7 linked regions of the Homo sapiens genome follow. The protein of the gene in region 1 purifies or fractionates together with the protein of each later gene. This does not show direct contact. Each region holds a gene or a part of one and is shown on either strand. Other genes may lie near its edges.

Region 1 (2,739 bases):
ATTATGTCTTTGGATTACATTTTTCTAACCTAGGTTTGGTGGATGGCTCTGGTGATTGGAGATGGGCCACGTACTGCATCTTGCCGCTAGTTTGGCTGATTTAGGGTAGATAAGGCAGTGGCATTCTGACTCCATTAGTTTCTCTTTCTTCTTCTGGGAACAGTGTGCTAGCCAGATGATGTCCTCATGGTTAGTGGAAAAGAGCAGGAAACTTCAATATGGAAGCCATCTTAAATCTCTGTAAATTCTACTAATTTCCTGTTGACTGAAGCAAATTACGTGAGTGAATTCAGAGTCCAAGGTCAAGGTAGTCACCCTGCCTGAGGTGGGAGGGTACTGCAGGATTATGTGACAAAGAGTAGGGTACTTAGAAATATTTACAAAATTGCTGAACATTTTAATTAAATAATTAATGTTTAAACAAAACAGACTTGAGTGTAAATATACCAAAGGCCTAAGCTTGAGAAACATGTTTGATAAATATTATTCATTGTCTGACAGCCCTGAGTTGGAAAATAAGACTAATACCACCTGGATGAGTTCCTGGAAACTCATTTTCCATTTGGGGAATTATAAGAAAATAATTCCTTCCATGCCCTAAGGGTGTGAGTGCATGTGTGTCTATGTGTTTAGGAGCTTATTAACAATGATGTCATATCAATTTATTGGTTATCAGAAACCAGATTTTAAAGTGTATCAGCCTCCCAGGGATTTCCAAGATAATCTTGGATGATTTTGATAAAAGGTTTAGAATCTGGTATTTAAATCTGGCATAAAAATAAGTCCATATTGGTATGATCCTAGTTATGACCAAGCTCCTTTAACAATTTAGACATTTACTATATGATATATGTATTGGGTTTTACAATTTCCCTATGGAACAACTGAAGATGCTGTATACAAATTATGGAGAGGTTAAACAAGGAAAAAAATTGCAAAACAATGAAAAATAATATGCCTTTCTTTGCATACTAACACATGAGAATTCATTTTCCACTTCAACCTCAGTATAAAAAAGTACAGCATATAGCAAGGAGAGAATGTATATGAAGAGGAGTGAATTTGAGCTGTTTTGAGAATAATGACCTTTTCTATTTCTATAAAGACAGTTTTGAATTCATCTATTAGCATATGCTGGTGCTTGCCTGTTGACACTAGTCACTGAATTTAAAGGCAGAAAATGTTATTGCACATTTAGTAATCAAGTGTTCATCGAAGTTAACATCTGGATGTTAAAGGACTCAGAACAAGTGTTACTAAGCCTGCATTTTTTTATCTGTTCAAACATGATGTGTTTTCTGCTCATCATTTCATCAATTCTGGTAGTGTTTGCATTTGTTCTTGGAAATGTTGCCAATGGCTTCATAGCCCTAGTAAATGTCATTGACTGGGTTAACACACGAAAGATCTCCTCAGCTGAGCAAATTCTCACTGCTCTGGTGGTCTCCAGAATTGGTTTACTCTGGGTCATGTTATTCCTTTGGTATGCAACTGTGTTTAATTCTGCTTTATATGGTTTAGAAGTAAGAATTGTTGCTTCTAATGCCTGGGCTGTAACGAACCATTTCAGCATGTGGCTTGCTGCTAGCCTCAGCATATTTTGTTTGCTCAAGATTGCCAATTTCTCCAACCTTATTTCTCTCCACCTAAAGAAGAGAATTAAGAGTGTTGTTCTGGTGATACTGTTGGGGCCCTTGGTATTTCTGATTTGTAATCTTGCTGTGATAACCATGGATGAGAGAGTGTGGACAAAAGAATATGAAGGAAATGTGACTTGGAAGATCAAATTGAGGAATGCAATACACCTTTCAAGCTTGACTGTAACTACTCTAGCAAACCTCATACCCTTTACTCTGAGCCTAATATGTTTTCTGCTGTTAATCTGTTCTCTTTGTAAACATCTCAAGAAGATGCGGCTCCATAGCAAAGGATCTCAAGATCCCAGCACCAAGGTCCATATAAAAGCTTTGCAAACTGTGACCTCCTTCCTCATGTTATTTGCCATTTACTTTCTGTGTATAATCACATCAACTTGGAATCTTAGGACACAGCAGAGCAAACTTGTACTCCTGCTTTGCCAAACTGTTGCAATCATGTATCCTTCATTCCACTCATTCATCCTGATTATGGGAAGTAGGAAGCTAAAACAGACCTTTCTTTCAGTTTTGTGGCAGATGACACGCTGAGTGAAAGAAGAGAAACCCTCAACTCCATAGATTCACAAGGGGAGCATCGTGGGTCTTCTAGCAGAAAACAAACTGATGGTGTCTGGAACATTTTATATTTCTATCAGTTTTTCCATAGTGTTTGTATGTGAGTAATTTCAAAACAGATACCTAGAAAAGTCATATATATATTTATGGGTGTATATGTGTGCATGTGTGTGAATAACAACGTTGACCATAAATTATGAAGCTGAGTATATTTCACATATATAGTATTTATATTTTATTATAGTTCATTGTATAGTATTTCATTTGAAGAATTTATTATCTCTCTTTATAATTAAGAACGTACAGCTTTTATGAAGAAATCATTTCTCTTTTCCATTGTAATTTGTACCACATATATGTGCTTAACTATCATTGGTGAACCTCTAATTTTTTGGATGGTAAAGACATTCAATTTTAAATCAATGATAAGAATGGATCTTTGGGGTAGGTTTTATTTCATTATGAATTCTTATTTTATGCTTAGTAGAAAGCAAATAGAATTGTTGTTAGTTAATGATGCACACAA
Region 2 (3,500 bases), on another chromosome or scaffold:
ATGGCCTTGGCTTATAGTCTGAACACTAATAATGTCACTAGAGTCCCGAGCAGCAGAATGGCACAACCTAGCCTATGTTTTCAAAGGATCCCTCTGACTCCAGTTTTGAAATAAAGGGTAGAAGTGAGGAGAACAATTGGGTAGTGACTCTAATAAACCAGATTAGAAATGGCGGTGGCCTGGATCAGGGAAGAGGCAGCAGAGGTGATGAGAAAAGCTAAGCCAGAGCCAAGAGATTTGCGGATGGATCCTACGCTTAGTGAGATAAAGAAGAGGCAGTGATGAGTACGAGGCTGGGCCCAACATGTGGGAAAGATTGAATTGCCATTAACTGAAATGAAGAGGATACAGGCAGAGCAGGTTTTGGGGGGAGAACCAGCAGTCAGTGTTGGGTACGTTCAACTTGAGATACCGATTGGACTTCCAAGTAGAGCTTATCAGATGGTAGCTGGATTGATGAGCCGGGTAAAGAGGAAAGGCCAGGGCTGGATTTGCTGATGTGGGAGTCATCCACAGAATGTGGTTTTAAAAGTCATGAGATTGGGTGAGGTCACAGGATAGGTGAGTGTAAATAGAGCCTGGAAGAGCTCCAAGAATAGAGATCTGGAAAAGGAACCAGCAGAAGAGACCAAAGTAGGAAACAAAAACAGGAAAGTTGTGGAGTCCTGGAAGGCAGTGAAGAACGTGTCCAGGAAGGAAGGAGTGGCGGGCCGCTCTGCCAAATGCAGCGGGTAGGTCAGGGAAGGCGAGTCTCATTGGTGCCCTTGACAAGAGCAGTCTCTGTGGAATGGTAGAGGCAGAAACATGACTGAAATGGATTAGAAAGAGAATAGGAAGAGAAAAATTGTTCGGTTGACTTTTTAGACCACTCTTTAAAAGATTTTGCTATAAAGAAGTGAGACAGGCTGGGCGCAGTGACTCATGCCTGTAATCGTAACACTTTGGGAGGCCGAGGTGGGTGGATCACTTGAAACCAGGTGTTTGAAACCAGCCTGGGCAATGTAGCAGCACCCCGTCTCTACAAAAAATACAAAAATTAACTGGGCATGGTGGTATGCACCTGTAGTCCCAGCTACTTGGGAGGCTGAGGTGGGACAATGGCTTGAGCCTGGGAGGTCAAGGCTGCAGTGAGCCAAGATCACGCCACTGCATCCCAGCCTGAATGGCAGAGTGAGACGCTGTCAAAAAAAAAAAAAAAAAAAAAAAGGAAGTGAGATAATGAGTAGGTAGAATTTCGGAGTAGGACTAGGTTTGTTTTGGTTTTAGAATGAGAGAAACAACAGCATGTTTGCATGTGGCTGGGAATGATCCCACACTGGGAGAATTCCTGGCTCAGTATTCACACATAGGTATGTGGAGACAGGGTCTAGTGTGTAGGAAGGAGGGGATCACCTGAAGGAGGAACATGGAAAATCCATTTGACAGGGAGGAAAGAAAATAGATTAACGCAGAGGCTGAGGGTGGGGCTAAGAGTTGATACAAATTTCTTCTGATTCCTTCAGTTTTCTTAGCCAACTAGGAAGCAAGATCATCTGCTCAGAGTGAAGATAGGTGAGGAGGTGTTGGAAGTCTGGGGAGAAGAGGAGAAGATGCAAAGTAGACTGTGAGTTGAGCAGAGACTGAGTATACTGGGGAAGCATCGGATGATACGGAGCGGCTTTAAGGGCTCACTAGAGGGTTGAGTTCACGTATGATTGGCAGTTGACTATGGAGCTTAAGCTTAGTAAAGCAGTACAGGACACCAAGGAGAAGGGCAGACTTTGAAAGCATGAATGGGTCCCAATGGTGTTGAAGGAGCATTGGAACTGGGTTACAGAAGGAGTGAGCTTTGACAACGAGCGCTGGTCTGAAAGGGGTTGCAAGGACTTGGGCTGGTGGAGAGGCTGTGGTTTAGAAAGGCCTGGGGTGCAGCCATGAGGGTGCTGAGGCCGGGGGTGGACATGGAGAGGGGACACAGATAGAGCATAAAATCAGTGGGGGAAGGGAAAGTCAAGGAACTGAAGGGCGGGATTTAGAAGGGTACACGTTTGTTGAGGTCACCAAAAATTAAGACAAGGGATGTGTTAGAGAATCAGTAAACCAAGAGCCAAAATCCTTCAGAAATCAGGCAGGGGGCAAGACACAAAATGTGAGTCAGTTTCTCCATTAGCTTTGAAGTTTCCAAATGACTTAAGGATCTTTCTGATGACGCCAGCAAACTGTAGAAGTATAAAATTCAGGCATTTGATAAAGAAACACCATGTTTTTAAATATTAATCCTCCATGGATGATCAATCCTTCAGTGACAATTAGGAATTGAAACAGTAGTCTAAATAATTATTTTGGCTTCTTTGTACCTACAGATGCAAATACAAAATTAGAGGAAATTTCTCTAAGGATAATACTACTAGATATCCCCGAACATCATACATGTGGTAATAGATTGCATAAGTGTTTCTCTTCCCATAATTTCTTCGTGGTTCCATAAAAATCATTTGAAAACGTTGCTAGACAGATTATGAGGAAACATGTGCAAAAGAAAGGTTAGATTGTTAACGCTGAATTACTTTCCTTGGCTTGTGTTTGTTCTGACAGAGATTTAGCTCATTGTCATACAAGTCTCGGGAAGAAGACCCCACTCTCACAGAAGAAGAGGTAAGTTTTGTTTCTTTTTAAAAAGGGAAAACTGTAGTAAAGAATAGACCTTCCCCCCTTGAATAAATGCACTGTAATGTTACCCTTTGAAAGAGCTGAAATATTCTCCTATGCCTATGTTTGGAGATGAAGACTTGGGATGCTGGTTTTATAATGGCTTGGAGAGACTGACGGGCAGGCCAGACAAGAAGGATGGCAGGACAAGTAGTCAGCTCAGGAAAAGAAACTGAGCAGGAAAGCAGGGTCAGGAAAAATAGAGAGGGCAGGGGAGAAGAGTGAGAAGAGAAAAATTCCAGCGTGGGAGCAGTCAGCAGTCAGGAAGACCACATCAGAAGGAAATGAATCATGGGTTGGAAAATTCAGGAAATTAGAACAGGTGAGTGTAGGGAATTTGCTCCAGCCTGGGAGACAGAAAGAGGAAGTCTCCGTGGGGAAATTTGGATGCTGAGAGCAGATTAACTTCAGTAAGTACAGTTCCAGGCAGGAGCTAGGGTCAGACATAGCAGCCAACAAGAGCAGATCGCATATTCCCAAGCACCAGGGTGCAAAATTCACGAGTTAGATTTTCAATGAAGCATTAAAATTGTTAAAGCCAGTATTATACATATAATATGAAATATGTGTATATATACATATTTCATATGTATATATATAAATGTTGAGCTATGCTCAGAGAGCTAAACACCTTAATTGATCTAGCTGTATATAGCTTCTATCTGGAATTCCTAGCAGAGTAAATTGTGTACATGTACAAGAGCAAAGTACATATGCAGGTACATCACTTCCTATAGGACTCTGAGTAAAGCATTAGAATATGGACATAGACACCCACGTTGAATGTTCAAAGAGCAAAAATGCTTTCCCTA
Region 3 (3,500 bases), on another chromosome or scaffold:
ATTCCCAGGTGCCCTGTACTGCATTTCCTCTGCCTTCCACTGTATTTCATTTTAACCTGGGTTAAAGTAGCAGCATCTTCCACTGGGCTGTACTGTTCGGAAATGGGTGGCTACCATGGGTTGCTTTAGGATTCTACAGCTGCCTGGAGGGGCGTGGACAGACAATCTAAGAGGGTGCAACAGGGTTAAGGGGAAAAATAGGTACAAAGAGAAAATCTAAGAAAATAATTTCTGTGAATATCAGGCTTAAAAATTTTAGATATGATTATTACTTTAATACCTATGGAAATGTTGGGGGAACTATAAATGTTATTTATTTTACTTCTTTTACTATTTACTACCAACCTGTTTGTTATGGGGGGATGTCATTTGTATTTTGATCTTTGAAGTTGGTTGGTTATTGTCATTGTTTTAAATTCTCCAAGTATGTCCACCTCTCCCTAGTTTGCCACGCTGCCTGCCCAGCTTTTTACGTGCCTGGGACCAAAACATTTCAGCGCACCTCTGACAATGATTCCTTTAGAGGAAGAGGAGTGTTCAAAACATCTGTGGGACACTGCCCCATTCAGTCATGAGTAGAGAACTTTGAAGCCCCCTTTAGTGATTATATCCTTGGGGTCTCCTGCTGAGCAGTGTCACTGTGCTCATTGGCTCTCAATGAAGGAATTCTCTCTTACGTCTCCTCTTCTCCATGGTAGCCTATTGATTTTCCCCAGTAGAGGACTCTGCTGTGGTCATATTCAGTGATGTGGTACAACCAAGGTAACCTATCCAGAGGGCTATCAATCAGTGATATTGATTGGGTGGCTGCCACAGGGTCTTTGACTGATGCTAGTTGGAAGTGTAGCTCTGAGTGACTTTAAATGTTCTGTATGTTGATCTTGGCTGCATTTTATTTTCATGGTCTCAGTACATCTTGCAAATTGATGCCATCAGTAATGATCAAGAAAAGAGGGAGGAGTTTCCTATTGCCATTCCCTGAATAGAAAAATTAACTTAGTGTCTCCCTGCTTCTCTTCCTCCTCTTTTTTATCCTTCCTTCCTCCCTCCTTCCTTCCCATTCTGTCTCCTTCTTTTCTATTCTTCCTTTCTTTTTCCCTTCCCTTTATATTAACTTTCTTCTGTGCTAGGTATTGGAGTCACAAAGATGAATAAGATATGATTTTTTGTCCAGGTGCGGTGGCTCATGCCTGTAATCCCAGCACTTTGGGAGACCGAGGCAGGAGGACTTGAGTCCAGGAGTTTGAGACCAGCCTGGGCAACAGAAGGAGACCCCATCTCTACAAATAATAAATAATTAGCAGAGTGTGGTGGTGTGTGCCTGAGGTCCCAGCCACTCTGGAGGTTGAGGCAGGAAGATCACCTGAGCCCGGGAGGTCAAGGCTGCAGTGAGCCATTATTGTGTGCCATTGTACTCCAGCCTGGGTGACAGAGTGAGACCCTGTCTCAGAAAAAGTAAACCAAACCAAAACAAAAACAAGATGTACTCTTTTGACCTTAATGAATTCTTACTTGGTATGGGGGTAGTATGAAATTCAGGGAATGACATTGAAAACAATCATATTCATAATCTCAATTAAATTCTGCAGTTAGGTACAGGGCACTTCCCTATGCCAATGCACTTTGGACAAAATATGAATGAGGCAGTGCTTCAGGGGCTAAGATGCAGTCTGCTGCTTACTATAAAAACGTTGCATATAATGTATGTCCTGATACTCAAATTATTAACGAAAAGAATAGATGCAAAATTTAGAATTTCTAGAATGATAATTGTGTATAAGAAAATGAAATACCCAGCTCATATTTCTGAATTTAAAAAATTATTTATGTTTCCCAGAACAATATTTTCCCTAAGACCCAAGGTAACCATCTATTTTTCAGCTTTCCAAAAGATAGGTCCACTTCTACCAAGCTGTGTGTTAGATGTGAGATTTTCCAAGGATATTTACACTTATTTGGCAGGGTGCCTCGTGAGCGGCTTTGATTTGAAATGTGGTTTCAACCACTTCCTAAATTTATACACAACTCACAAAGAATGAAAATTTTGGTTGTGGAAGTCCATAAATGCTGTTTATAAAACATGGGCACCCTGTCAGATACTCAGTGGTATACCTCTTAAATACTGTTGATTATTAAGCTTTTATGGAGCACTTTTATATTGCTAGAGTAATCATTTTTATTGGCTTTTCTTGACAACAGCCCAATGTCATTTGATAATATTTTTCTTTCTATTTTTATATTCCAAGAATAGGGACAAAGTAAATGGATATTCTGGCCACAAATACAGCCAGTGACAAAATGAGGATCAAACTGATTGAACTCTAAATCCTCACCTTAACTGTAGCCCTACAGTTCTTTCTCTCTATTAAGGTGTTATGTTTTGTCTCAGTTTCTGCATTTTCTTTTTTATCTTAGCTGTTGTTGTGATCTGATGCTTTTGGGAAATACCAACCAGGACCTTACTAGGATATTCTCTGTCCTACCTGCCTTGTAATATAATGCAGGGAAAAGATCTTTGAACTGAAATAAAGAGACCAGGGTTCTAGTCTCAGTATTTCTACCAACCAGATTTTAGGCAAGTTATTGCTTCTCTGGACCTCATTCATCTCATCCTTAGGAAAAGGGACTACGATAGTTGGTTTTTAAGGTTTTCTTTCAAGAGTTAACATATAAAAGTCTAATAATAGGTAGCACTTAATGAGCATTTATTAACTGCCAGGTCCTGTGCTGAGTGCTATGTGGGGATTGTTCCATTTAATCATCATAACCACTCTGTGGTAGTAATGTAGTAGTGTAATTTTCCCTTCCCTTTTTACAAGGAGAAATCTTAGCTTTAGGGAGACTATGGGACTTAATCATTGTTGACAGCTAGCAATGTTGAACCAGAAGCCAAACCCTGAGAGTCTGAGAGGTCACATGCTGAACCCTGACACTTATCCAAGTGCTATTCTGGAAGAAACAAAGAGGAGAGGAATGTCTAAGGACCCCAACAATGTGTTATAATATAAGAACATCTCTCTTCTTTGGATAATTGGATATTCCAGACTCTTGTCTGGGAATTATTAGGGATAGCATTTACAGATGGGTGTCTAGTAACTACTATAATTCCTGATCATAATTCCCTCACAGCCCTATCACCCCAGAATTATTAGGGATATTAAACTGTTTCTGAGTCTTAGATTCTTATTTCAAAAATGCTCCAAGTACTGTTTTATTAGACCTGAGAGAGCTATAAAGATCAGCTGAAAATGATTGTTCTTAACAGATGTATTACTGACTCCATCAAATACATCAGTTATGCCAGGAGGATCTGAAAACTAGAAATGGAAATTTTCATATCTCAATCAGATGAAAGTCATTTTATTTATTGTAGGCAATTGCTACCCTAAGTTTAGCTTATCAGAATCAGTATCTTTTTTATATTCTTGCTTAGGTCTACCCCCCTTTGGCAAGTGCATTTCCAAAGGATCTGGTACCTTTATAACTAAAATATTAAAGAA
Region 4 (3,500 bases), on another chromosome or scaffold:
TGTTACAGATCGCTACTGAAGCAATAGAAAACTTCCGAACCGTTGTTTCTTTGACTCAGGAGCAGAAGTTTGAACATATGTATGCTCAGAGTTTGCAGGTACCATACAGGTAATAACCGCTGAAGAGTGGGAGGAGAGTGTGAATAATTTTTCAATCATCATATTTGTTTTCAGAGGGATTACTTTGGCTAGAAGGTAGGGAGCAAGTGGAGAAAGTGCTCGAAGGTAAACCATTGAGAAACAGTTGTAATTATGCAGGAGAGAAAGTACAAGACCCTGAACTAAGGCAGGGACATCTCTGAGGTAGAACCTGTAAGAATGGGTCACTGATGAGAAGGGAGGGAGACATGATGCTGAGAATGACTATCTGATGTCCAGGTAGGATATGACCCTATAATTTGCTCTAGTTGAAAATGAGTTATTTATGGAACCTGAAATTTGAGGTACCTGTGGGACACAGAGAGGATGGTGCTTCCTGGGTTTACCTGTCTTTCTGCTTTTTACCCCTTCTCCAGTGCAGACCTTCTTCCTTTAATACAGTCATCCCAGTGAGGGCTCTAATAAGTGGTGTGAACATAAGCAAGCCCAACCTTTCTGAGTCTGTTTCTTATAATAAAAGGAAAGCTGGACTTTATTGATGGATTTTTAAGCTTTTATTTAAAAAAAATGATGGTAGAGCCTTTTTGTCTAAAAAAAAATTATTTGAAATCTTCATATGTGATGAAGGTAAAAGCAGAGTTGATCTGGTAGCAGGAGGGGTTGGAAGCCCAGGGCTGCCCACTTGCTAACCTGCCCCCACCCACACCTCCATATCACTGAGCTGGATCCATATCATGATTCTAGAATGTCAACCCCTTTTTAAAGCCTTCTCTGAGACCCCCGAAGAATTTAGTGCTTCTCCTTTCTTCCTATAACAGATTATTCATAAGGCACCTCTAATGCATAAATAGTAATTCAACTCAAGTCAGGTCTCCTAAGTCAAGAACATGCCTGTTTCCTCTATGTCAACCCATCATGGCCCCTGCACCTTGTAGGTGTTGGGTAACTGTGTGCAGAATGAATATTTACGTAGAGTACTTCCATACTGTGTGTCCAAAAGTGGGGAGAAAGGGAGATAACTTTTACTTATTGATCCCTAACCGGCTCTTTACAGTCATTGGATTATTTTCTCTTTACATCAACACTTTGAGGTGTAGTTAATTCTACATTAAAGATAAAGACACTGAGTCTCAGAGGTTAGGCAGTTTCCCAAATTTGCACAACTGTTAAGTGTAAAGTGAGGACCAAACTTAGTTCTTTGGAAACGAAACCCATTTTTGTTGGTCATGCCTCTGTGCCCTACTGCCAACCTATCAAAAGTTACATTTTAAGGACTGAGAAATGAAAGTGGAATGAGTTTTCAAATGTCTTCTTTTCAGAAACTCTTTGAGGAAAGCACACATCTTTGGAATTACATTTTCCTTCACCCAGGCAATGATGTATTTTTCCTATGCTGGATGTTTCCGGTTTGGAGCCTACTTGGTGGCACATAAACTCATGAGCTTTGAGGATGTTCTGTTGTAAGTATTGGGCTATTATTTAGTTAAGCTCTAAAAATAAAGCTGGGATGAACATGCTTCATGTCTAGATAGGAAACCCTACTGTGAAGCCTCATGAAGAGATTCTGGTGATTCCTAAATCGGCATTTCTGCCTCTGAGTCTTCATGTGCCACCATTGAAGCACCCCCTTTCATTTGGAGGAGCAGTAACTTCTTTCCTCATTGCTGGCTCACACATAGTTGACCTTTTCAAATCTGTGACTGAGTGGAGTGATTCCATTCGGAGATTTTGAGAAGGCCTTGGCATTTGGGAAGAAGCCTAGCCCTGAGCAAGGAGTCTGACTGGCTCCTTTTAAAGGACTTTCTTACAGAGCAAGTAAAATACAGATGTGTTGTACTAAGTTCTGCAAGCCTTTGGCAATTCCAGGATATGTTTACTTTCCCTTGATAAGAGAGGAATTGGAAGGTAAGAGCCAAATGAATTCAGAAATGACAAAGGAAAAGTTATATTGGGATTTTTCTGCTACATTGTTCTGAATGTAGATAATTGTACCTCGGTCAGAGGAAGATAAGCCTGAAGCAATTATACTACAAAAGTACCCAAATATGCAATTTGGTGGTCAAAAGTATGTGTAATCTTTCTGAGCTTCTAGATTTGGAGGTGGGTAAGATTCTGCCTCTTGATAGCATAACATAATTAGTAGCGATATAATTTTATATTTAAACCAGAATCATATAAGCCTGGCAGTATAATGTGTTAGTATAGTATTTCTGTCCTTTTTAAACATTGAGTTGTTCATGCATTACAGTTTGCTCAGGATGACCCCCAAAAAGACATCTAAATTTCCATTAAAGATGTACATTGGACAAATGATATGCAGGTGCTATTTGTGATTATGGCCTAGAGATCAAAACCAAGTATCACTGGCATTGGGGCTTTGATTAGATAATTATTTGATATATTGCTTTACTCCAAAAAATTGAATTGATGAAAGTTGCTGACATTGGGGCATTTAGGTTTGCAAAATCAACCTTCCAAGTTAAGGAAAAGGAAGACCTGTCTGAAGAACAGTGCATTAGAAAAAGGTCCCATAGGTTTAAATGATCACAAGTCCAAGATTAACTATCGGTATTTTATTTAGTGCTAGTTAAACAAACAAACAAACAAAAACTAATGACACAATATGCTACACAAACATAGGCATAGAGTCCAGAGGAAAGAAAGCGATGAATTCCCTGTATTCTGGGCGGGTTCCCAAGTATTATGTCTGTTCCAGGCTTGTGTTTAAAAAAAGCATATTAATAAATGTGTCTAGAGAAGGGCAGTGAAAGGAGTTATCAAAGAAGCAAAGGAGTTTTTAGCAATATTTCAAGACTTGTAGGCCTGTCTTATGTAAAAGGAAGTAAATTTTTTCTTCAGTTTGAAAAAGAACTGTTTAACAATAGACAATCAAACATGCTACTTCCTAAAACAGAGGATGGAAGCCAATTTAGGGGAGGTGTCCAGGCACGAACATGGAGAGCTGGACTTGATACCTGTAAGGTCCTTCCCAACTTTAAGTTGCTGTGATTCCCATGTCATAGATAAGAACGTCAATGCATCTTAAGAGCAACATGATATCTGGCTCTGTAAGAAACTTTCTTTTGGTTGCACAATTCATAGGTTTTTAAGAATCTGATGTAATTCCAACATCACTGACTGTATCCGTTGTTGATTACCACAATAATGCTGTGTAACAACCAGCCACTAAACCTCAGAGACATACATATTTTTGCCCACAAACCTATGGGTTAGCTGTGAAGTTCTACTGATCTGGATTAGGCATAGTGGATCTCGGCTGGACTTACTCATGTGTCTGTAGTGGATTGTGTCTGTAGCTGGTTGGTTGGGATTCAGACAGCTCTCCTCCATGTGTGCCTCATCCTCCAGCAGGCTATCCTGGGTTTGAGACAGTGGCAGAA
Region 5 (3,500 bases), on another chromosome or scaffold:
CAGAAAGAAGTATAATTCTAACCAGGTGTCAGAATCTCAATGGGTCATGGAAAAAAGGATGTTCTAAGAATGATTAGAACTTGCATATACAGAGATTGAAAAATAGAAAGCATAATGAGTATAAAAGAGCTTTTCAAGCAAAGTATCTATACTTTAGGAAGATTAATCTTACAATTAATAAAGTATAAAAGTCAAGCAGTTAAATATGGAGGCTGTTGCAGTGGTATAATCAAGAAGAGAATAGCGGACCTGAAATAAGATTTTCTGGATGTAAAATTGACTGAGCCTAGCACTGAAATATTGGCAGTGATATGGAATCATAAATAACAACCAGGTTCTGGTCCTACAAAACCGGGAGGAAAGTATTGCTATTAACCTAGAAAGGAAAATTTTTAGAGAGAGTCAGGTTGTGGAAGGAGATTGGGAACACATAATAAATTTAGTTTCTAACATGTTGACTTGGTGGTATTGTATCGTGTACATGTATATATATATATATATATGTATGTCTTACTCAGTTCAGGCTGCTATAACAAGAATATCATAGGCTGGGTGGCTTAAGACAACAAAAATTTATTTCTCAGTTTTGGAGGCTGAAAGTCCGAGATCAGGGTGCCACCATGGTCAAGTTCTGATGAGGATCTTATTCCTGGTTTACACATGGCCATCTTACATTTTTGAAAGAAAGCAGCAGCTCTCTTCTGTCTGTTTTTATAAGGGCATTAATCCCATCCTGAGGGCTCTACCCTCATGATTTAATTACCACATAAAGGCCCTATCTCCCACTATCCTCCCATTGAGGGTTAGAGTTTCAGCATTTAATTTTGGGTAGACACAAACACGAAGTCCATAATAATATACAGCAGTAAGTAGAAAACATGAAGGAATTTAAAAGAGAAATCAGAGCTAGAGACTGCCTTGAGGATAGAAATTGAATGTTGAAACCATGGCAGCGTATGCTGAAGATCATTCAGAGTGAGCAGAGCTAGAACTCTGCCAAAATCTCTTACTTAAGGGAGTTAGTGGAGAAAGGAAAACCTGATTCTGATCCTAGAAAACTGGGAGGGAAGGGATAACAGAAAAGAACAAAGAAAATGTATAGGTTCTAGGAAGAAAGTTTTAAGAATGACAGGGATAGTGTCTATATAAAAATGAGATTAAGGAATGTGATTAAGCAGTAGCCTTTGGGTTTGGAAACCAGTACATGACTAGTATCCTGGAAAAGCAGTTTTTTTAGAGTGCTGGGACTGGAAAGAGTGGGAGGAAATAATTTATTCTTATATATATGAATAATAGATGTATTAATAGTTCTGAACAGTAGTCTCAGAAATAGCACTTACACTACTAAAACAAGTCTATCGTGCTATTCAAGTAGAATGCAAGTTTTTAAAATGTAGGATAAATCTATAACTCAAAATAAGCAACCAGCATAGAGTTGGTATTGTAGTTTATGATTTGCGCAGATGGGGATTTAACTCTTTTTTCCCCACTGTATGTGATTAAAATGTATCAGACTCATCTTGAGTACATATTCATCATAAATTGTAAAGCAAATGCCAGTTTTCTAAACCTTTACTTAAACTATTTGATTACATGTAATTTTTATTTTTACTTAATGAAAAAAAATGATGGATCATAAACTCTTTTGTTTTTCTAGATTCCTGGATTTTGTGAGAATGAGAAAGGTGTTGTCCCTTGTAACATTTTGGTTGGCTATAAAGCTGTATATCGTTTGTGCTTTGGTTTGGCTATGTTCTATCTTCTTCTCTCTTTACTAATGATCAAAGTGAAGAGTAGCAGTGATCCTAGAGCTGCAGTGCACAATGGGTAAGTTTTTAAATAAGCTTCAATATAAAAGCTTGGGTAGCCTCTTCTTGATAATTGCCAGTTTATCCAAGGAAACTTTAAGGTAAAATAAACTTATACAATTTGCAGAATTACTTTATTCATGAATGACAGGATAAGAAAATCTTGTTTTTACTGGAGAATGTCAGACTTTGGATATTAAATAATAGCTGTGATAACCTCTGATCCACAGTGTTTTATATTTTCATACTAAAAAAGAGGCTCTATTATATTTGTGACTACTAAGGGAATAGCTATTTCTCCTTCTACTGTTAACTTTAGGTGGACCAGTCCACTTACATAGAACTCTCAGTTCCCTAGACCCAGAGAGCAGATTTTTCTAGGTTGGTTGTATTGGACAACCCAGAAAGAAACTTCAGGGTTTCTTTTATCAATCTTCCTTCATATAGAGCACTACTTCTGGTACCCTTATTTGACTGTTTTAATATCTGCTGTTGCTTATCTAGTTATATGTGCTACCAAAGACAAAAAGTATAAACAAGTAGAATATAAATATTAATGAGAAAATATGTGACGGGTTGCTTTTCCTTTATTTTGTTCCTTTGGTCATTGATTATTTTATTAAATTATTAGAGTTTTAGATGGAGGCATTTATCATGTGTTTATAAAAACTATTCATTTATACAGTTCACCTTATACTTTGATACATTATCCCACTTATGTGAAATAAGCCTGTGAAATGGAACTAACATTCTCATTTTTCCATAATGAATTAGTGAGAAATACATCTTTCTCAAAATGGTCTTAAAAGCAGTTTATGTAATTGTTGTTTTTTCTGATAATCAAGTGTATTAGGGTTCTCTAGAGGGACAGAACTAATAGGATAGATAGATATATATAAAGGGGAGTTTATTAAGTATTATCTCACATGATCTCAAGGTCCCACAATAGGCCATCTGCAAGCTGAGGAGCAAGGAGAGCCAGTCCTAGTCCCAAAACTGAAGAACTTGGAGCCTGATGTTCAAGGGCAGGGAGCATCCAGCACAGGAGAAAGATGTAGGCTGGGATGCTAGGCCAGTCTAGTCTTTTCACTTTTTTTTTTTGCCTGCTTTATATTCTAGCCCTGCTGGCAGCTGATTAGATGGTGCCCACCCAGATTAAGGGTGTGTCTGCCTTTCCCAGCCCACTGACTGAAATGTTAATCTTCTTTGGCAACACCCTCACAGACACACCCAGCATCAGTACTTTGCACCCTTCAATCCAATCAAGTTGACACTCAGTATTAACCATTACAAGTCAGTACTTTGCATCCTTGAATTCAATTGACACTCAGTATAACTATCAGAAGTCTACCCATTGTCAACTTGAACCCGTATACATCTCCTGAGATCATACATAATCTGCAAATAAAGACAATAATAAGGTCATACAACTAACCTTACAACTGAAAACGCACCAGTCCCCAACCAAAATACTAATTACATAAAGTTAACAATACTTAAATGCTGATGTGAAGTCAGTAAATCTTATGTCACATGATAAAGGAGAATGGAAATAAAATGAAGATATTTTCTTAGTACAAGTATATGCATGCATGAACATGTTTTTGACAAAACAAGGAGGAAGTACTCACAACAATTACAGCCCTCGTTTCTGCAGCTGGACATGTGGTCATAGCTGGTATTGATGACTGC
Region 6 (2,822 bases), on another chromosome or scaffold:
TTTTTAGTAGAGACGAGGTTTCACCATGCTGGTCAGGCTGGTCTCGAACTCCAGACCTTAAGTGATCCGCCCGTCTCAGCCTCCCAAAGTGCTGGGATTACAGGCGTGAGCCACAGTGCCTGGCCAGCAACAGCATTATAACTTGTCTTAGAGAATACATACTAGCCAGCCAGGCGCGGTGGCTCACATCTGTAATCCCAGCACTTTGGGAGGCCAAGGCGGGCGGATCACCTGAGGTCAGGAGTTCGAGACCAGCCTGACCAACATGGAGAAACCCTGTCTCTACTAAAAATACAAAATTAGCTGGGCATGATGGTGCATGCCTATAATCCCAGCTACTCGGGAAGCTGAGGCAGGAGAATAGCTTGAACCCAGAAGGCGAAGGTTACGGTGAGCCGAGATCACGCTACTGCACGCCAGCATGCCAGCCTGGGCGACAGAGCAGAACTCCATCTCAAAAAAAAAAAAAAAAAAGAGAGAGAATACATACTAGCCATTGGTTGGATGCCATTAAAGAAATATTTTATTTTGTCTATATCATTGTAGATGCTAGTACCCTTAGATTAGTAAAACAAAACTACCATATGATCTTTATTTAAAAAGCCTTGGGTTAAGCTCTGGAGAATTTTCATAGGCAAATTCTTCTGTATGAGCTGGATCAGTAAACACGCCAATAAAATCTATCTCCAGGAAGAATGGACCATCCACTTTATCAGCCAAGGTGAATCCTATAGAAGAGATCTAAATTTAAAATACAGAAATTGATTAAAATCTCATACAGTGACGTACTGAGATTATTCCAGGAGTTTAAAATCCCATCAGGTGATGATTATAACTGGGTTTTAATGCTATCAGCCCTTAGCAAATACTACTAATTCTCCCATAGCATACTGTAAGAGGAAATACAAGACTGCTTTTCTTTCCTCATTCAACTTCCTCCCCTCTCCTCATTAGGTAGTGCCACTTAAGACTAGGAAGGACGGCCGGGCGTCGTGGCTCAGGCCTGTAATCCCAACACTGGGAGGCCAAGGTGGGCAGATCACAAGGTCCAGTTAAAAACCAGCCTGCCCAATATGGTAAAACCTCGTCTCTACTAAGAATACAAAGATTAGCCAAGTGTGGTGGCAGGCACCTGTAATTCCAGCTACTCAGGAGACTGAGGCAGGAGAAATGCTTGAACCCGGGAGGTAGAGGTTGCAGTGAGCCGAGATCATGCCACTGCACTCCAGCCTGAGTGACAAAGCAAGACTCCATGTCAAAAAACAAAAAGACTAGTAAGGACGACATGAATGCCTAATGGAGTTCCTTGAAGCGTTCATAAACTCTTATTTTAAAGCTAAATTAGGAGAGAAGGGAGGGGGGAAAATAGCTAAAGTAAAATGTAGGCATGCTAAAAAATGATCCTTCTAAAATTCCTTCAGGATGGGGGTATGGTTCATAGGAGAGGTCTAAGTCAGCCTCTGGCTGGGTATAAGAGCAGTGGCCCTGAGAAGAAATATTCATCTGCCAGCCTTCTCAAATGAACTCAGTCTCCCCAGAGTTCCGATTCATTAAAAATGATACAGTTCTGAGTGAAAAATACAGGAATATGTTACCTTATCAAGCGGAAGCTCATGCTGAACATCCCGGATTCTTCCTCGATTAGAGAAGAAAAATTTGGAAAAAGGAATCTGAAAGAAGAAACCATTTACTTCATAACTGAAATGTAAGCAATTGAGGCATCTGCATGTAATTGTAACGATAAAATGAGTTTACATTTATTCTAAAATTATGTCATATATGTATTATGACAAATGGCTAGCCATTTGGATCAAAGATATAACTCAGGCCAAACGATAAAGGGTTAACTATGAAAAAAATATTTGTAACATTTATGGAAAAAAGACTAGTATCCTAAACACAGCTTTTTTTTTTTTTTCTTTCTGTGGAGAATGGGGTCTCACTTTGTTGCCTGAACCCGGGAGGTAGAGGTTGCAGTAAGCCAAGATCACACCACTGCACTTCAGCCTGGGCGATAGAGCTAGATTCTATCTCAGAAAAAAAAGAAAAAAGAATTTTAACGTTTCCCTTCCTTCCTACATTAGAAACTGAACTAAAAGAAATGTCCTATTCCTTCTACTCTTGAACTTTCAAGTGTGCCTTTTTATTCATCAACTTTATTTTCATATTTCTTCTCTATGTAATTTACTTATTATTAAGCACGATCTTTTAAAACTATATCTGGCTTTAATTGTTTGTGTTTTGTTTTGAGATAGGGTCTCACTCTGTTACCCAGGCTGGAGTGCAGTGGTGCCATCTTGGCTCACTGCAACTTCCACCTCCCAGGTTCAAGCGATTCTCCCACCTCAGCTTCCTGAGTAGCTGGGACTATAGGCGCACACCACCACACCCGGCTAATTTTTTTTTTTTTTTTTTTTTTGGTAGAGACGGTGTTTCACCATGTTAGCCAGGCTGGTCTTAAACTCCTGAGCTCAAGTAATCTGCCAACCTTGGCCTACAGGTATGAACCACCACACCCTGCCTAAATAATTATACAGAAGCTCTCCAGGATATATTCCTAAATTTTAAAAACACAAAAAACAGGTACAGAGTATGCTAATTTTATTTATATTTTGAGTTTAACAAAGGAAGAAAATGGCTGGGCCTGGTTGTGCATGCCTGTAATCCCAGCACTTTGGGAGGCCAACACAATAGGATCAACTGAGCCCAGGAGTTCAAGACCAGCCTGGGAAACACGGTGAAACCAAGACTCTAGTAAAAAAACAAAAAACTTATCCAGCCATGGTGGTGCATCCTTGTAGTCCTGGCTATTCAGGAGGCTA
Region 7 (3,500 bases), on another chromosome or scaffold:
GATTATGGGCTGGAGGGAGACCTGGGGGCTTCCCAGATGGGGCGAGGCTGGCTCGAGGTCCCCCGTCCAAATGAAGTGCTGACCATCTGCGGTGCGTGCCCCCCAGGACCCCCTCCTCCGCGTCCAGGAGGTGCTGAATGGCACGGAGGTGAACCTGCAGCACCTCACCGCCCTGGTGGACTGCCGCAGCCTGCATCTGGTGAGAGGCAGGGCCTGGGACAGGGCCATGGCAGCTTGTAGGGTGGGAACAGGGGAGCAGCTGTTCGGGAGGATGGGGACCCTCAGCAGACAGTGGGTCCTCAGCCCTGCCTCTGGGGGGCGGTCCAGGCCGCCGTGGCTGGGCTGAAGGTCTCACGCTGCCCCCTCCACCCTCCCTGTCTCTGGATCCTGCCATCTCATCCCACGGCCTCAGGACTACGTGCAAGCGCTGACCGGCTTCTGCTATGACGGCGTGGAGGGCCTCATCTACCTGGCCCTCTTCTCCTTCGTCACAGCCCTCATGTTCAGCTCCATCGTCTGCAGCGTCCCGCACACCTGGCAGCAAAAGAGGTGAGGGGCCCTGGGGGGTCGCAGGAGCTTGCCCCAGGCCACATGGCATGCGGGACACTTCAGGGGCATGCCTTTATGGACACCCATGTGCCAGTCCCAGAGGTGAGGGACAGACACCTCCTCACCTCGTGACCCTCCCTAGGCCTCTCTAGTGTCTCTGAGGCTGCCGGTTCCCAGGTGAGCATCATCATTTCACAGGAGGAAAACAGCCTGGAGGAGCTCCCGGCCTGGGTTGCAGGAGTCCAGAGCAGACAGTGGGGAGGACTGGGGTCTCTTGCCTCCCCAGACTGGCTCTGTGCCCTATGCCCTGAGAGCTGGCCTCAGACTGTCTACTCTGTACCGCCTCCCAGGCAGGTGTCCCCCACCATGGGGTGCAGGTGCACGACGCTGTGGGGGAAAGGTTGGTGGTCCACTGTGCAGGCTTAGCTCTGCCAGGGGTAGTCCAGGTAGCTGTGGCCTCCAGCTAAGTGACCAGGATAGAAGCCAGCTCCCCTGGAGCCACTATGTCCTTACCTTTGAAGTGGGGGTCCTGGTGGCCCCTGCCTGAGTCTTCCCATTCAGTACTGGTTTGAGTGGTGTATTGGGGTGACAGGCTCCTTCCCTTGCCAGAGCTCCTATGGCTTATCTTTGAGACCTTCACCTCCTCTCCCACTTGGACTGTGGCTGCTGCTTGGTGGCCCAATATGGATGGCAGGTAGCTCAGCTCAGATTTCTTCCTTTTGTCTGGATTTCTATTATTTTCCTTTGTGATGGTGATGGTGATGCTGCCAACGATGATGGTGATGGTGATGGTGGTAATGATGGTGATGGTGATGGTGGTGATGATGGTGATGGTGGTGGTGATGGTGATGATGGTGATGATGGTGGTGGTGGTTGTGGTGGTGGTGATGGTGATGGTGATGGTGATGTCATTGTTGATGTTGGTGATGGTGATGGCATTGGTGATGTCGGTGATGGTGGTGGTGATGGTGTCAGTGGTAACAAAGATGGTAGACATAGGGGAGTAGATAAGAGCATAGCCCTGGACCCACAGGGCTAGATTCAGATTCTGTCTCTATCCTTGCTTATTGTATGATGTGGGCAAGTCACTTAACCACCCTGGGCCTCAATTTCCCTCATTGTAAGAGGACACAGCTGGAGTGTCGAGTGGGCACTTGAGCCACTGCACGTGAGGGGCTTGGCTGGTGGCCCCTGCGCAGCCAAAAGCTACCACTGTCCTGTTTCTGAAGTGCTTGCTGCCAGGCAGCCCACCCTGTGTCCCATGTGGGACCTCCTGGGGCGTGGAGGCTCCAAAGTGCCAGAGGCTCGCGCAGAGTGGAAGACAGAAAGCCAGAGGGCAGCAGGGCTAGGAAAACTGGCTCAGGCCACCCAAGGGTGCAGTTGGATCCTGCAGAGCCAAGAGGCACCCCAGCCTCCTGTGCCTTCAAGAGGCACCCTGGCCTCCTGCACTCTCCCAGGAGGGGCCCTGCACTCTTCTTTCAGTAAGCAGCCAGCCAGCCTTGCCATGCACAGGCCGCAGTACAGGGCCTGGCACTCGGGTGACCACACAGGTCTCATAGCACCCCACCTCGCAAGGGCAGGGCTGGATGCAGAGCCAGGTGACCTGCCCACAGTCCCACATGGAGTGTGCACACGGCCGAGCCAGAACTGGAACCAGGAGTGTCTGTCTGCACCAGAACTGACCCCCATGGGTCTGTGGCCAGCTCCTTCCTGCTGGGGCCTGAGCCCGTGCTGCGTGTCCCTCCTCACAGAGGCCCTGATGAGGACGGGGAGGAGGAGGCCGCTCCAGGGCCGCGGCAGGCGCACGACAGCCTCTACCGCGTCCACATGCCCAGCCTGTACAGCTGTGGCAGCAGCTACGGCAGTGAGACCAGCATCCCGGCCGCGGCCCACACCGTCAGCAACGCCCCGGTCACTGAGTACATGTGAGTTGACGTGGGCCTAGTGGGGCCAGCGGACACGTCAGCTGCGGCTGAGAGCGCGGATCTGGGCTGGGGCTAGCTCGAGGCAAGGGGCTGGAGAAGGGGCGGCCTCCGGGCTGGGCAGCCCTGGCCTTGAGTGCCTCCTGCCCCAGGTGAACACGGTCCAGGGGCCATGGAGAGGCCACATGGTCACATGGAGGTTCCGTGTCCAGGGCACAAGGACTCTGTGGCCAAGGACCTCAGGGCCCAGCTACATGGTGAACAGGTGGCTCGGAGGGAGTGGACTCTGGCTGGGCCAAGGTGGGCAGGGGTCTCTCTGTGGGCCCTCTCTGAGCCCTTTGTTACTGTGCTGGGTTCGTGGGACCCCCAGTGAGAATGGATGTGCCCATCTGGGCACAGCGGGCCTACCCATGGGCCCCCCGACCTGCAGCTGGGACTGCATGGCCAGCAGGCACTCACAGCCTCTCTCCCCTCATGCCTCAGGAGCCAGAACGCTAATTTCCAGAACCCCCGCTGTGAGAACACCCCACTCATTGGGCGCGAGTCCCCGCCGCCCTCAGTAAGTCTTGGGGCAGGAGGGTGGATGGGGGGCTGCTCAGCCTTGGGGGTCCGCTGTTCCACTGCGTCGGTGGGCTGGTGTGGCATGTGCAGCCAGTGTGAGCTCTGGGGGCAGCTGTGAGCTGCCACCACCGGGGTCCCAGGTGACCCTTCCCAGCTGGGACCTCTCTGCAGGACGCCTGACCTGAGTTGACGGGGCTGGGTGGGACTGCCAGCTCCTCCCCGCTGGCCTTGGAGTGTCCTGGGGCCAGAGTGGGCAGCCTCGGGACCAGCCGCCCAGGGGGTCAGCTCTCAGGCCCTTTCCTGGGGAAGGAGAGTGGGTGGGCGGGCAGATGTGGCCCCACTGTGGCCCTCCCAGCTTGTAGGCACGGCCCTGCACCAGGCCCTCCCTGGCCTCTTACCTGCCATTCTCTGTGCCTTCTGGACCTGTGGGGTGCCACCGCTCCAGTTCCCAGGGGCCCCGGCCCTGCC

What was found.
Region 2: the proteins of TAS2R19 (region 1) and PAG1 purify together in Homo sapiens (affinity purification with mass spectrometry; one large-scale study listed by BioGRID and IntAct). This does not show direct contact.
Region 3: the proteins of TAS2R19 (region 1) and GAP43 purify together in Homo sapiens (affinity purification with mass spectrometry; one large-scale study listed by BioGRID and IntAct). This does not show direct contact.
Region 4: the proteins of TAS2R19 (region 1) and ABCB1 purify together in Homo sapiens (affinity purification with mass spectrometry; one large-scale study listed by BioGRID and IntAct). This does not show direct contact.
Region 5: the proteins of TAS2R19 (region 1) and SERINC1 purify together in Homo sapiens (affinity purification with mass spectrometry; one large-scale study listed by BioGRID and IntAct). This does not show direct contact.
Region 6: the proteins of TAS2R19 (region 1) and NDUFAF1 purify together in Homo sapiens (affinity purification with mass spectrometry; one large-scale study listed by BioGRID and IntAct). This does not show direct contact.
Region 7: the proteins of TAS2R19 (region 1) and TTYH3 purify together in Homo sapiens (affinity purification with mass spectrometry; one large-scale study listed by BioGRID and IntAct). This does not show direct contact.

What each region holds. Positions count from the first base shown.
Region 1 is NC_000012.12:11,021,119-11,023,857, reverse strand, and holds TAS2R19 (taste receptor type 2 member 19), read left to right. Parts: upstream 1-1,237; 5' UTR 1,238-1,286; coding exon 1,287-2,186; 3' UTR 2,187-2,239; downstream 2,240-2,739. UniProt on the Homo sapiens protein: Receptor that may play a role in the perception of bitterness and is gustducin-linked. May play a role in sensing the chemical composition of the gastrointestinal content.
Region 2 is NC_000008.11:80,979,569-80,983,068, reverse strand, and holds part of PAG1 (phosphoprotein associated with glycosphingolipid-enriched microdomains 1), read left to right. Parts: intron 1-2,574; coding exon 2,575-2,634; intron 2,635-3,500. UniProt on the Homo sapiens protein: Negatively regulates TCR (T-cell antigen receptor)-mediated signaling in T-cells and FCER1 (high affinity immunoglobulin epsilon receptor)-mediated signaling in mast cells.
Region 3 is NC_000003.12:115,679,010-115,682,509, forward strand, and holds part of GAP43 (neuromodulin), read left to right. Parts: intron 1-3,500. UniProt on the Homo sapiens protein: This protein is associated with nerve growth. It is a major component of the motile 'growth cones' that form the tips of elongating axons. Plays a role in axonal and dendritic filopodia induction.
Region 4 is NC_000007.14:87,517,385-87,520,884, reverse strand, and holds part of ABCB1 (ATP-dependent translocase ABCB1), read left to right. Parts: intron 1-8; coding exon 9-109; intron 110-1,418; coding exon 1,419-1,559; intron 1,560-3,500. UniProt on the Homo sapiens protein: Translocates drugs and phospholipids across the membrane. Catalyzes the flop of phospholipids from the cytoplasmic to the exoplasmic leaflet of the apical membrane.
Region 5 is NC_000006.12:122,454,808-122,458,307, reverse strand, and holds part of SERINC1 (serine incorporator 1), read left to right. Parts: intron 1-1,657; coding exon 1,658-1,827; intron 1,828-3,500.
Region 6 is NC_000015.10:41,386,853-41,389,674, forward strand, and holds the end of NDUFAF1 (complex I intermediate-associated protein 30, mitochondrial precursor), read right to left. Parts: intron 1,671-2,822; coding exon 1,596-1,670; intron 742-1,595; coding exon 592-741; 3' UTR 501-591; downstream 1-500. UniProt on the Homo sapiens protein: As part of the MCIA complex, involved in the assembly of the mitochondrial complex I.
Region 7 is NC_000007.14:2,655,986-2,659,485, forward strand, and holds part of TTYH3 (protein tweety homolog 3), read left to right. Parts: intron 1-106; coding exon 107-199; intron 200-412; coding exon 413-549; intron 550-2,300; coding exon 2,301-2,474; intron 2,475-2,954; coding exon 2,955-3,030; intron 3,031-3,500. UniProt on the Homo sapiens protein: Calcium-independent, swelling-dependent volume-regulated anion channel (VRAC-swell) which plays a pivotal role in the process of regulatory volume decrease (RVD) in the brain through the efflux of anions like chloride and organic osmolytes like glutamate.